3 separate regions of the Homo sapiens genome follow, and regions 1 and 3 are each linked to region 2. Evidence: fine-mapped expression QTL. A gene starts in region 2. Each other region holds a variant in brackets. All regions are shown on one strand. Distances are between the middles of the regions.

Region 1 (4,240 bases), 130 kb before region 2:
CGTCAGGAAAGGGGAAGACGTTATTAACTTTCAGAAGGGAGAAGACCCAGAATACTTTGCCATACCCTAAACTATATCATCCGTGGCAGGCCTAGCATCCAGGCCCCCCTCTCTCTCCCATTTCTTGCCTGTTTCATAGAACCACATCATTGCTTATGGAAAGCTGCATCAAAGTGTCTTAGAAGATGGTGTAAAACTGAGATTTCAAGAGCTCATGTCCACAGGGAAACTAGTTAGTGATACCGAATGCTGCTGCATGTCAGAATTCCTGAATTAATCTGAATCAATGCACATAAAAGATTGGCTTGTGAGCAAAGGATTTTATTAAAACATTTTGATTTCTGTTGCTTTAAGAAAAAGACCAAAGTTTCCTGCCATAGGATGGCAAATGTATTCTTCATCACTACTAGTTTTATTGTGGGGGTCTCACTGAAGGGTTGGCATATCCAATCAAGCATGTAGCTCTCAGACAGCATGGATTTGGGAGTGAGAGATGGGATTGTTACTCAGTTCAGCCATTTCTTAATTATGCCCATGGGCAAGATACTGCCTTACCACTCTAAACCTTGATTTTCCTAATCTGTAAAATAGGGATGATAATAGAACCTACTCATAGAGTTATTGGAAGGATTAAGTGAGTTAATTTACATAAAGCACTTAGAATATGCCTGTCATAGAGCACTCATTATGCTAATGTTTTTATTGTTGAATCTAAAGTGGGGAGAAAGGAAGCATCCCTCCACTTGTGCTGTTGATGACAAAGGAATTAGTGATGCTCTGGGGAGTGTGCTGGAAATCCTCTACAGAGAATTAGAAAACTCCAGAATGCCCACTGCAAACCGGACGAGCCAGGGTGAAACTCCCTGGAAAGTGATAAAGTGTAATTTAACTTGAAAGATGTAAAATGAGGAATGGAGATGAACTACATGATGCTGCAGAGACAGTTAGTCTTGAAACCCTGGAGGAATCCCACCTCCTAGGATGAAGGTGGGGGTAGTCAGGTGACTGCTACACTGATTTCTGATCCTTGGAGTCTATGACCCTGCCTGTTACGTAAAGCAGAGTCTTCACATTTGTTGCTGTACACAACAACCAGTGTTTCACTGATGGCTGCCTATGGTGTTTTCTTTTCCTCTCCACCTCTTCCTCTCATGGATGTCCCGTGAAACTAGACATAGAAGATCCTTATGACTGCAAGAAGTGCAGGATGAGTTTCCCCACTCTTCAGGATCACCGGAAGCACATCCATGAGGTGCACTCCAAAGAGTACCACCCCTGCCCCACGTGTGGGAAGATCTTCAGTGCCCCGTCCATGCTGGAGCGGCACGTGGTGACCCACGTTGGAGGGAAGCCCTTCAGCTGCGGGATCTGCAACAAGGCCTACCAGGTGACCTCAGGTGCCACTGGGAGCTCTTCCCCTCACCCCTGACCTACTCTCCATTTGATCTTCCCTGATGCCCGGGTTGGTGGCTTGCAGATCATATCTTGTATCCAGGATGTGACAATTGGCTGATTCTCATGAAGGATGCAGCTTGTGATCCAGATTCTCTAAGGAGATCTGGTCGGAGTGCTGCAGTGGGGGAGCTCATTATTGGAGCAGAGAGTTCATACGCTTCTTCTCTTAGACAGCAGACTTGTCGTGAACTAATGCTGCTTTTCCCCTTGGATGCTCACCTTCCATAGAACCCATTGCTCCCATGTGTCAATGGGCATGACAGCGGCAATGGGGAGTGGAACACTACCTGGAATTACCTTGTTTGGCACAATTAGTTTGTGTTTGTTTAACTCACAGGGAAGGGCTCAGCCTTTTTACCTTAGGATTTGATATGTAATTAAAGTGAAGCCCCATATAGAACTAAAAAGAAACTGCATCTGTCAGAAGCTTTAAAACTACAGAGAAAAGAATGGTCCTTGTGGCATCTATAAGATTTGGGTATAGACAAAGAAGCATAACTGCTAACTTTAGCTCAGCAAAAACTGAGAGCTAACTTTGTGCCAACGCTCATGTTGTGACATTAGCGTTCCAGAACGGAGACCTGGGCTTGAGCCCTAGGATGGCGTGGAATGGTAGGGAAAGTATTCCCAGTGCTGCTCTGGAACCTGGGAAGGAGAGGGACTCTTGCTTATGGGGCAAGGGCAGTGTGCACTCCTCCAGCAGCTTGCTCGGCTGTGCCCCAGCTCCCTGGGAAGCCGTGAGATGCAGCTCACTGGTAAAGCACACAGGTGTTACAGTTGGAAGGCCTGGGCCTGAATCCTGGTCCTGCTATCTCCTGATGTT[A/G]TGATTAGTCATTTAACCCCTCGGTGTCTCCGCTTCCAGCTCGCTAGGAAGACTCTAACACCTCCCTCATAGGCTTGTTGTAAGGAATGGGCATGTGAAGGACTCCTGGGAGCCCTGCCCTGTAGTGGCTTCTCAATGAATATGTAGTTGCCTTATTCTCACAAACACCAGGCTTTCCTCACATCAGCACCCGGTGTGATAGGTAAGAGTGTGTGATACTAGAAACGTCAGCTTATCCAAAAATGTATTTCTTTCTCTCATGAGAGCCTCGTGAGCTCTCCAGCTTGCTGGAACTTTCTAAGACCTAACACTTGCCAAATTCCTTGCAGCAATTGTCTGGTTTGTGGTACCACAATCGAACCCACCACCCTGACGTATTTGCTGCTCAGAACCACCGATCTTCCAAGTTCTCATCACTCCAGTGCAGCTCCTGTGACAAAACCTTCCCCAACACCATTGAGCACAAGAAGCACATCAAAGCAGAACATGCAGGTGGAGTTTGGGTACCGCCGGCAGAGAGCGGGAGGGGCTTGATGGTGTAGCCTCCTGGGCCCCACCAGAAATCCCCACTTCTAATAGTCTAGTGTGATGTGCAGTGGTCATTGCCTTTGTTCTGCCCCAGCGCACCTGTCCGTAGCAGCAGCAGTCAGTAGCAGCAGCTTGAGTGGCAGTGGTTCTCAAACCTGGAAGCGTAGCGCAGTGTAAGCTCCCACCAGCCCTGAGTGAGAGCTTGTTGGGGCACCTGGGAAGGGTGTCAGCCTCAGTGGTAGGCAGGCCTGAGTGGAAATCCTGATTCCAGCACTTATCAGCTACATGACCTTGGCAAGTGACTTCCCTTTTCTGAGCCTGTTTCCTTCTCTCCAGGATGGCAGTTATTAAAACCTACTTTGCAGGTAAATTTGGTGATAATCACAACAGCTGTCAGTTACAGAGTGTTTCCTATGTGCAAGACACCATGCTAAGCACCTCGTGTATATTTTCTCATTTCATTCTCACAACATCCCTCTGAGCATCCAGGCAGTCTGGATCCAGATCTCATGCTCTTTACCACTAGATTGTACAAATATACCATAGGTTATAAGATTCCTGGCACTTGGTAGATGCTTGCTAAGTATTGGCCATCGCCCCAACCCCAGCCCTGTTACTCTTCAGCCTTGGAGAGCCAACCATTTGTTCTTTCCCAGCACGTCTTTCTTTATGCACTTCACAGATATGAAGTTCCATGAATGTGACCAGTGTAAGGAGCTCTTCCCCACGCCAGCCTTGCTGCAGGTTCATGTCAAGTGCCAGCATTCAGGTCAGTACCCCTGTCAGCATACTTCTAGGCTAGACTCGGGGCCTGAATCTCCCCTCCACCACTTGCAGCTTTGCAACCTAGGCTAAATCGCTTAACAAACCTGTGCCTCGGTTTCTTCATCTATAAAATGGGAACAGTTGTAGCACCTGCCTCATAGAGTAGTGTGAAAAACTGAAGGCCTTGGCATCAATAAGCATCCCTTAAGCCGTAACTGTGATTGTCATTGTTATTGCTATACTCATCAAATCTAAAGTGCCAGTTAAAAATAAATAAATACAATTCCAGTTATAAGATATACCATTTTTATTTTTTTTTTTTTTGAGACAGAGTCTCACTCTGTCACCCAGCCTGGAGTGCAGTGGTGCGATCTCAGATCACTGCAACCTCCATCTCCTGGGTTCAAGCAATTCTCCCTGACTTAGCCTCCCAAGTAGCTGGAATTACAGGTGCCTGCCACCATGCTCGACTAAATAAGATGTACCTTTTTTTTTTTTTTTTTTTTGAGATGGAGTCTCACTCTGTCACCCAGGCTGGAGTGCAGTGGCGCGATCTCGGCTCACTGCAAGCTCCGTCTCCCAGGTTCACGCCATTCTCCTGCCTCAGCCTCCCGAGTAGCTGGGACTACAGGCGCCCACCACCACACCCGACTAATTTTTTTTTTGTAT
Region 2 (4,240 bases):
TTTTGTGCCATTTTTATTTTCCATAATTGTTTCCTTGTTGTTCTCTCTTCATCAGGGGGGCAAGCCTTTGAAAATGCCAACGTGTCTGCCTTGCTGAGGGGAGGCGGGGGAGAGTTTTTCAGTGGGGCAGGCAAGGAGGGGTGGACGTGGGGCAGGAGCCAGGACAAGACACCCCAAGCTGCAAGGAACCCCTTTCCAACCACAGGAAGGTGAGGGGGTGTAGGTTTCTTTTTCCACTCTTTGCAGGGATCAGGGATTTTCCACTCTCAATCAGGGATGTGAGTCCAAAATTTTGTAGGTACAGAGACCAGCTGGCTCCCATTAGCGGTCAAGGCCCAGGGACCCCTCAGCTCCTGATCCCCAAGTCCAGGCCTCCTCCTAATCCAGGCATGGCTTCTTTGCTCCTGGGTTCCAAGAATTCCATCTTCTCTTCATATAAGTAATACCGTTCCCATGTTTGCAGTGGGTGCCCACCAAGGGCTGGGCACTCACCTGGCCCTGGACATGGCAGGGGGACCTCGCTGGCCCCCAAAACAGCCCCAGGAGATAGGCGTTCATGCTTCCCATTTCTACACGAGGAAACTGAGGCCAGTAAACATTCCCGTGGCCACATAGTTAGCAAGACGAAGAGCTGGGATTCAAACTGCCAAAGTCCGTGCTCCTAACCCACCTCTGCTGCTTCCTGTTCTTAGCCTCACTGCTTCTACCCCAAATTGACATCCATCTTTTCCCATTGCCCTTAGCCACCTAAGAATTAGAGGCCCAGAGGCTGGGCATGGTGGCTCACGCCTGTAATCCCAGCACTTTGGGAGGCCGAGGCAGGCAGATCAACTTGAGGTCAGGAGTTTGAGACCGGCCTGGCCAACATGGTGAAACCCTGTATCTACTAAAAAAAAATACAAAAATTAGCTGGGCTTGGTGGCATGCACCTGTAGTCCCAGCTACCTGGGAGGCTGAGGCAGGAGAATCGCTTGAACTTGGGAGGAAGAGGTTCTAGTGAGCTGAGGTCGCACCACTGCACTCCAGCCTGAGCAACAGACTGAGACTCCATCTCAAGAAAAAAAAAAAAAAAAAGAACTAGAGGCCCAGAGCCACTCGGCTTTGGGAATGCTCAGAAGCCCTCAACTTGCAACCTACTAACTCGTTTCTCCCTTTGTGGAATCCAGTGTTTCTTCTCTTCACCCTAGCCTGGGTCCCTTCGGGACTATAGTTGACTGAGCTCAGAGACCTTTTGGTTTTATCAAACTTATCTTTCCCTCCTGTTCACCCATTGCAGTTAACACTTAATTTCCACCAAGCTGCATCCACAAGCCCAGTGAATTTCCATCTCCAAGCACAGATGTCAAGAGGGCCTCCAGCTCCTGGTGCTTGCTAGTCATCATGTCGTCTGAGACGCAGCCACAGGGAGAGACTGATATCCTAGTGCCAGGGATGCCGGCTTCCAGGTCTGCATCTGCCACCTCCATGAGGCATCGGCCCCAGCAGTCACGTCTTTCTGTGACATTTATCACAGAAGCAATGAAGCCTCATGTCATTCCGTGTTTAACACCAGTCTCCCCCCGTAGAAGGGAGGCCCCATGGGGGCAGGGACCATGGCTGATTTGCTAAGAGCTCTCTCTTCAGTGCACATGGAAGCAAACACTAAATATTTGTTAAATGGTGGGTCTCCCCTCTGGGCCTCAGTTTCCTCGTATATAAAATGAGGAGGATGGGCCGAGTAACCTCAGCCCCTCTCCGGCCCTAACTTGGCGTGATTCCAGGATCGAGAAGAAGCAACAGGCCCCTGCCTGGGCCTATTATTGTCATCAGCGTCCAGCCCTGCTGGAAGCAGAGGGAGGGGTATCAATAAATAATGAACACATTTAAAATTCATTATGAGATTATTTTCTGAGAACAGGGAAAGAGCAGGGGCACAGAATGGGAAGGAAGCAGAAGAGATGAGCCCAGAAAGGGGAAGCCTGGGACATGAAGTGATATTAACAATGAACACGTGCACAGCCCTTTACAGTTTACCCCCAGACACTTCCTCCCCCATCATTTCCTCCATTATCCTCCCAGTGGCCTGTGAGATCTGTATCTGTAGAGCAGGTACAATTATGGTCCCATCCTATAGCAGAGAAAATTGGGGCTCCCTTGACTGACAACACATCAACTGGCAAGTGGCAGAGGCGGGATTGGAATCAAAGGCTCTGACTGTAAGCCAGCACTCAGGCAGCGGGCCCGCCACATGATGCTCACTGAGGAACACCCCTGCCCAGTGTAGAAGAAGATCACGAGGTCAGAGAGCCTGGGAGGGTGAGCTGTGGATGTTCCCCCAGGACAGCGTGTTCTCCCCACAGCTGCTGAGTTGGCAGAACCAAACTTGCCACCCACCCGTCTCATTTACAGTAAATCCAGTGGGTTGCAGAAATAGGACCTGAAACTGCCTGAGGGCAGCAGGGTGGGGGGACAGTGAGGGGACGGGAAAGGGGCCAGCCTGCTGGTCCATGGGAGGGGACCGTCAGGGGAAAGCCCTTCCCGCCTCTGGGGAAGGGAACTTCCGCTTCGGACCGAGGGCAGTAGGCTCTCGGCTCCTGGTCCCACTGCTGCTCAGCCCAGTGGCCTCACAGGACACCAGCTTCCCAGGTGAGGACGGGGCTTGGCGCCTGGGGGAGGCTGGCAGGGCCAATATGGCAGAAAGTGGTGATTCCGTAAGTGTGAGCTTTGCGTCACCTGCCTCGGAGCCAGTTAGGCTGTTTAACAGTGCAGGTAGCTGGGCCCAATCCCAGACCTATGGGACCCAGATCTCTGGGGTGAGTTGGGGAGTCTGCTGCTACCCAGGGCCTAGCGGATGGGCAGGCCACCTAAAGCGGGAGCCTGGCACATAGGAGCTTTGGCATCGCAGAGACTTGAGCTGAGTCTGGCTCTGCACCTTATGTATTGGTTATCTTGGGCAAGTCACCTAACCTCTCTCAGCCCGGCCCCCCTACAGAGAACAGAATCTTTCAGCACTGCTGTGCCTTACAGGAGATCAAGCTTGCAAAAGCTTAGTGCATGCCCTGGCTCAAAATTTATCAGTAAACCAGAGGCAGGAGTGGGATTATAAGCCAGTCGCTCCTGCCCGGCCCAGCATTTCCCCAACACCTTGCTTATTTCCTCATACTCGCTGAGAAAGCTCAGCTTGACTCTTCCAAAGAAATAAGGGGATGTGCAGGTAGAGTTACGATGAGTTCTCAGCTAGTACTGAGTGAGCGCAATGTTTGTGCAGCTGGGGAGTGGGATGTGGCACTGCACGGGGCAGGGGGGACCTTATTTCTTCTAAGCGCCTTCTCCTGTCATCCTTCTGGCAGCCCTGTCAGGTTGAAATCAGCATTGCCAAGAGGCTCAGAGAGGTTAAGGCACTTGCCTGAGGTTATGCAGCCGGTAGCAGATGGGGCTTTAAAGTCAAGTGGGCCTGACTCCATGTTGCGGAAAGGGACTGCTGGACCGAAGGAGATGGAAAGGTCAGAGCCTGGGGGGAGGACAGGAGAAACCGCGCTGGCAATGATGATGGGCTGGCACAGGCAGGAGGCAGTTAAACCAGATGAGTTGTAAGCCCTAACCCAAGGCTGAAACTCGGTGGCTTTTGAAATGGGCTAGAACCAGCACTTTCCCACTCCCCCTGCCCCTGGCTTCCCCAGGAAGCCCAAGTCCTGTCAGTACCCTGCTCCCCACCCTCTCTCCCCACCAACTGGTCACAGCTCTCCACCCCTTGCTGCCTCCAACTGACAGAGCCCCTCCCTCTAAACACAGTCTTTCAAAGGGATTGTCTTTTTTTACTTCTCCAACCATCTTCCCTTCTGTTCAACCACTCAGGAATTCTTGGATGACAGTGATAATAATAAAATAGCTAATATTCATTAAGAATTTCCAACATGCCAGGCTCTGTTGGAAGCTGTAACTCATGTCCTCGCACATACCCTATGAGGGAGAGAGTAGCATTATCCCCACTTTATAGGAGGGTAAACTGTGGCCAGAGAGAAGGAGTGATTTCCCAAGTCCCTTAGCTAAGAAGCAGTAGAGACCTTATGTGAACGCTGAGTGTTGCTTTCCTTGTGACACTACAGGCTCCCGCCACCAGGTGAATGTGTGCTGCCTAACAAGAGCAGCAATCATCGTGGTGGTAAAAAGCCACTTTCACCGAACACTGACCATGTGCCTACCACTACCCTTGGTGTGTCCCATGCATTAGTCCTTTTATCAGGCTGTCTGGCTTCAAAGT
Region 3 (4,240 bases), 22 kb before region 2:
CACTGCACTCCAGCCTGGGCCACAGAGAGAGACTCCGTGCCCAAATATAAATAAATAAATAAATAAATAACTATTCAATTTACCGGCTGTGTGACCTTGTGTGAGTCACTTACCCTCTCTGAACCTCAGTTACCTCATCTGTAAAAGGGACTGTCACCATGCCACCTCCCCGGGGATTCTGATGATGAAGTGAGGTCGTGTATTAAGCACCCAGTAGGAAGTCCAGCATTCAGTAGGGCTCACAAGGAAGAGCCTATTAGCATCTTGCAAACATACCACGGTGAAGCATCAACCTCAAAACACCCCAGAGAGGACAAGGCTTACCCTGTGGAAAGAATGACTACAGGAGGAATTTCAGGTCCTGTGATGGGCAGATGAGGGAGATCATTTGCACTCCAGGCTCTCCCTGGCCACTCTCTTGTGACCCTCATGCCTATGTGAGCTCCTTGGAAGCTAGCATCTCCCAGCAACCTGGACGTCAGGCCCAGCCCTCTCAAGGTGGAGGTAATACCTCCTTGTTGGCTCCCACAGCCCGATCTGTTTGTTTTCCAAACTCTTAGTCCTCTTAATCTTTTTACATCTTACCTGCCTGGTGGCTTCCGGCTATATTTGCCTGTGGGGAATGTCTCCAGAGCAGCTCCACCCAGTTCCCCTCCGGGCTGGGCTGCCTCCCTCACAGGCATTCAGGGTGTTGGCTTCCAGCTGGGGGGCTTTATTTCTTCCTATTTTTCTTCACTCTCCCCTGCCAATAAATCTTTTCTGTCTTCTTTTTTTTTTTTTTTTTTTTTTTCCAAATTTTCTTTCATGCACCGGCCCTCTGAGTGCCAGGTGAGAGTAGGAGGAGGTAAAACATTGTGCTAAGAGCCTACTGTGTGCCAGAGACCAGCCGCACTACTGTCTGGAAGCCTGGCATAGTTTGAGGTCATCATTCCCAGTTTATAGGTGAGGTGCTAGAGCCCCAGACACAGGAGGTTACTCGTGCAAGATCACACAGCCAAAGAGAGACACACACTGAATTTGAACACATGCTGCCTCCATCTCCGCAACAAATGATCTGTTGTTTACAATCCCCTCTGCGTTTCATAAAATAATCCCAAGAAGTGCTTTTATCTGCCAAGAAAAGTAAAGAATAAAGAGTGTGCACAGACAACACATGGCAGTTCTCTCACACAACAGCTCCCTCCCCAATTCCAAATGCCTCCCCCAACCACTTGCTAACAAAACCCTGATCTTATTGGGTGGTGGGGACAAAGAATGGAAGGATAGACCCCAAAAGGCCCAGAAGGAGGGTTTTGCAAGAAAGGCGAGACTAAGACAATCTCCATAATAAAGAACAGAGAGCAGGAGAGTCAGGGAGAAGGAGGAACAGTGGCTCTGGGCAGAGGGGCCGGGAGATTTTTTTTTTTGCTGGAGACAGGAAGTTGAAGACAGAGGTCTGGAGGAGTGGATGGAAAAGAGCAAAGAGCACTGGTGTCAACTCTATGCCTCCTTCCTGGTGTTCAAATGTACAGCAGAGAATTGAGTGTATCTGTTCACAGGGCTGGGTGGGGCAGAGGACTTGCACCAGAATGTTCTTAGCAGCTTTATTCATCATAGCCCAAACTCTGTACCAACAGAAGGGACAAACAAAGTGTGATACTGCATATGCATACGATGGAATAGCACTCAGCAATACCACGCAAACTGACACACGTAACACAGATGCATCTCACCGGCATGCTCTTCAAAAGAAGCCAGACACAAAAGAGCACAGGCCGCATGATTCCATTGACATGAAGTTCAAGAACAGGCAGAAGGCACCAATGGTGAGGGAGAGCAGAACACCGGTTACTTTGCGGGTGGAGGGGAGCACTGTTGACTTGGAGGGTCACGGCCGCCTCGCTGGGGAGATGGATACTCTGCACTCTGATCTGAGTGGTGGTAGAGGGCCTGTGCGTGCAGGTGTAAGCTACTGAGCAGTGTGCTTGAGATGTGCACATTTTACTCTGTGCAAATTATGCCTCATTTTTTTTAAAAGAAATATACAAGCACCTTAGAGTCGCATTATATACACACTTGCCTATCTCCACTTCGCCTAATAGGACTCAGAGAGAGAATCACAATTTAAGTAAGGCAGGGGATATTGGTTTTTTTTTTTTTTGAGACGGAGTTTCACTCTTGTCGCCCAAGCTGAAGTGCAATGGCCTGATCTTGGTTCACTGCAACCTCCACCTCCTGGGTTCAAGCAA[T/C]TCTCCTGCCTCAGCCTCCCGAGTAGCAGGGATTACAGGCATGTGCCACTAGGCCAACTAATTTTATACTTTTAGTAGAGACAGAGTTTATCCATGTTTGTCAGGCTGGACTCAAACTCCCGGCCTCAGTTGATCCACCCTCCTCGACCTCCCAAAGTGCTGGGATTACAGGCGTGAGCCACTGCTCCCAGCCAGGGGATACTGTCTTCTAAGAGCCTATTTCTGGAGGGACCGTGGCTGGGAGAGTTCTGCTGTCCCCAAGTCTGCCTCCGCTCCTGTGAACCCCTCATGATCTAAACACCTCACCTCCAAGGGTGGCTCCAGTCTCCAAAGATTCAATTCCTTTGTGTGTGAGTGGTGGGGGAATTGGTTAACCTTAACCAACTGGTACTCAACTGAAGAAAAAGAAATCTGTTCTACTATTGGAGCCAAAACTGACAGCAAAAGACTATTGTGAAACGGTAATACAGTCTTTCACGTGGCGCTGTTTGAAGAATTTTTCCACCATTTACAATGGTGATACTCACCATTTACAATGTTTGCCTCGTATGCCGATTTTGCAACACAACCCTTGAATGGGATGTGACTGCCATAAAGAATTCAAGTCATTTAAAAATTATTTTTTGGTTATTTATTTGACCTTTGATCCCACTCTGAGACTGAACCTCATGGATCATAACTGTGCAAGCATGGCTAGGAATTTCCTCTCTTCCCCACATCTCCTGCCTCCCGTCTAGGAGTCTGGGCTCTGGAGAAATGGAAGAATATGCCCTTCCTCTCCGCCTGAAGGTGTCCCTGTTGTGACATGCACAGGGCCATTGCTGACCCTTTTATTTCTCACACTAATGATATGCGCATTAGTATCGATGTCTTTTATTTCTTGGGAAGTGTTTATACTCTTGCAACAGCCTGATAAGTAAAATCATCCAACACTTGGAAATAAGGCAAATAGATAACCGGTGTCCTTTCAAAGTCAAATGAGAGCTGTATCTAACAAACCCTGCTAAGGGTCATCTGACACTCTAGGGGAATGTCACTTGGCTTGACTTATTATTTACTATTGATTAGAGCCCAGATTCAGTAAAGATAGCTGTTAACTGGTAGAAAACTGTTAAGTTGCAAATTATTTTTGTCTAGTAGAGATGCAAATGATTTCTTTTCAATAGAGAAGATAGCCCCAACATGATGATTTTATTGCCCTATAGAACACTAACCAGTTTTGTATCTAATTTAGCAATTTTATGAATATTCCAGAATTCTTGTTGTTTTAACTGACTCTCTCTGTCTCCATATATAGGTATACATATATATTTTTTTCCATATCCATTGAACTAGCTTTGTCACCCAGCTGGTTCCTCCATTAACAACCTACAAGAGGACACTGACACATTCCCACACTGTATTTCTATAGGAACTGGGTATTCAATATTTTGAAAACTAGACTTTGAGAAGCTTTTCACAGTATCTGATTTTTCCTCTTGCCAACTCTTGCCCCTGTCTGTGTGACCCGGGCAAGTCTTTTTTTGTCTCTGGTCCTTTGTGTCTTCAGAGTAAAATAGGGCACGCAGGGCTGGCGTTTCTGCCTCGGGCATGTCATGTTTCTAACTCCTCTGGCAGGCAAGCAGGGCTGACGCAATGCAGTCAAAGAAGATGGATACTGGGCCGGGCGCGGTGGCTCACACCTGTAATCCTAGCACTTTGGGAGGCCGAGATGGGCAGATCACCTGAGGTCAGGGGTTTGAGACCAGCCTGGGCAACATGGCAAAACCCCGTCCCTACTAAAAATACAAAAATTAGCCGGGCGTGGTGGTGCACACACGCCTGTAATCCCAGCTACTTGGAAGGCTGAGGCAGGAGAATCTCTTGAACCCAGGAGGCAGAGGTTGCAGTGAGCTGAGATCGAGCCACTGCACTCCAGCCTGGGCAACAAAGTGAGACTGTCTCAAAAAAAAAAAAAAAAAAAGAAGAAGAAGAAGAAGAAGAAGATGGATACTGGGCTGGGCGCGGTGGCT

What was found. PIP is the estimated chance that this variant, and not a neighbour inherited with it, causes the effect.
Region 1: its variant is the best candidate, but not a certain one, in a credible set for the expression of C1QB in whole blood (TOPMed, PIP 0.61).
Region 3: its variant is the best candidate, but not a certain one, in a credible set for the expression of C1QB in whole blood (INTERVAL, PIP 0.84).

The regions. Positions count from the first base shown.
Region 1 is chr1:22,518,889-22,523,128 of GRCh38, forward strand. It overlaps ZBTB40 (zinc finger and BTB domain containing 40), which reads left to right. Exons shown (of 18, transcript NM_014870.4): 14 at 1,173-1,387; 15 at 2,608-2,770; 16 at 3,489-3,575. Among named protein-coding and RNA genes, the nearest start is that of EPHA8, 42 kb to the right of the region's middle. The variant A/G (reference allele first, on the strand shown) is at 2,279.
Region 2 is chr1:22,650,679-22,654,918 of GRCh38, forward strand. C1QB (complement C1q B chain) reads left to right here and starts at 2,558. Exons shown (of 3, transcript NM_001378156.1): 1 at 2,558-2,625.
Region 3 is chr1:22,628,746-22,632,985 of GRCh38, forward strand. No RefSeq gene overlaps it. Among named protein-coding and RNA genes, the nearest start is that of MIR6127, 2.5 kb to the right of the region's middle. The variant T/C (reference allele first, on the strand shown) is at 2,229.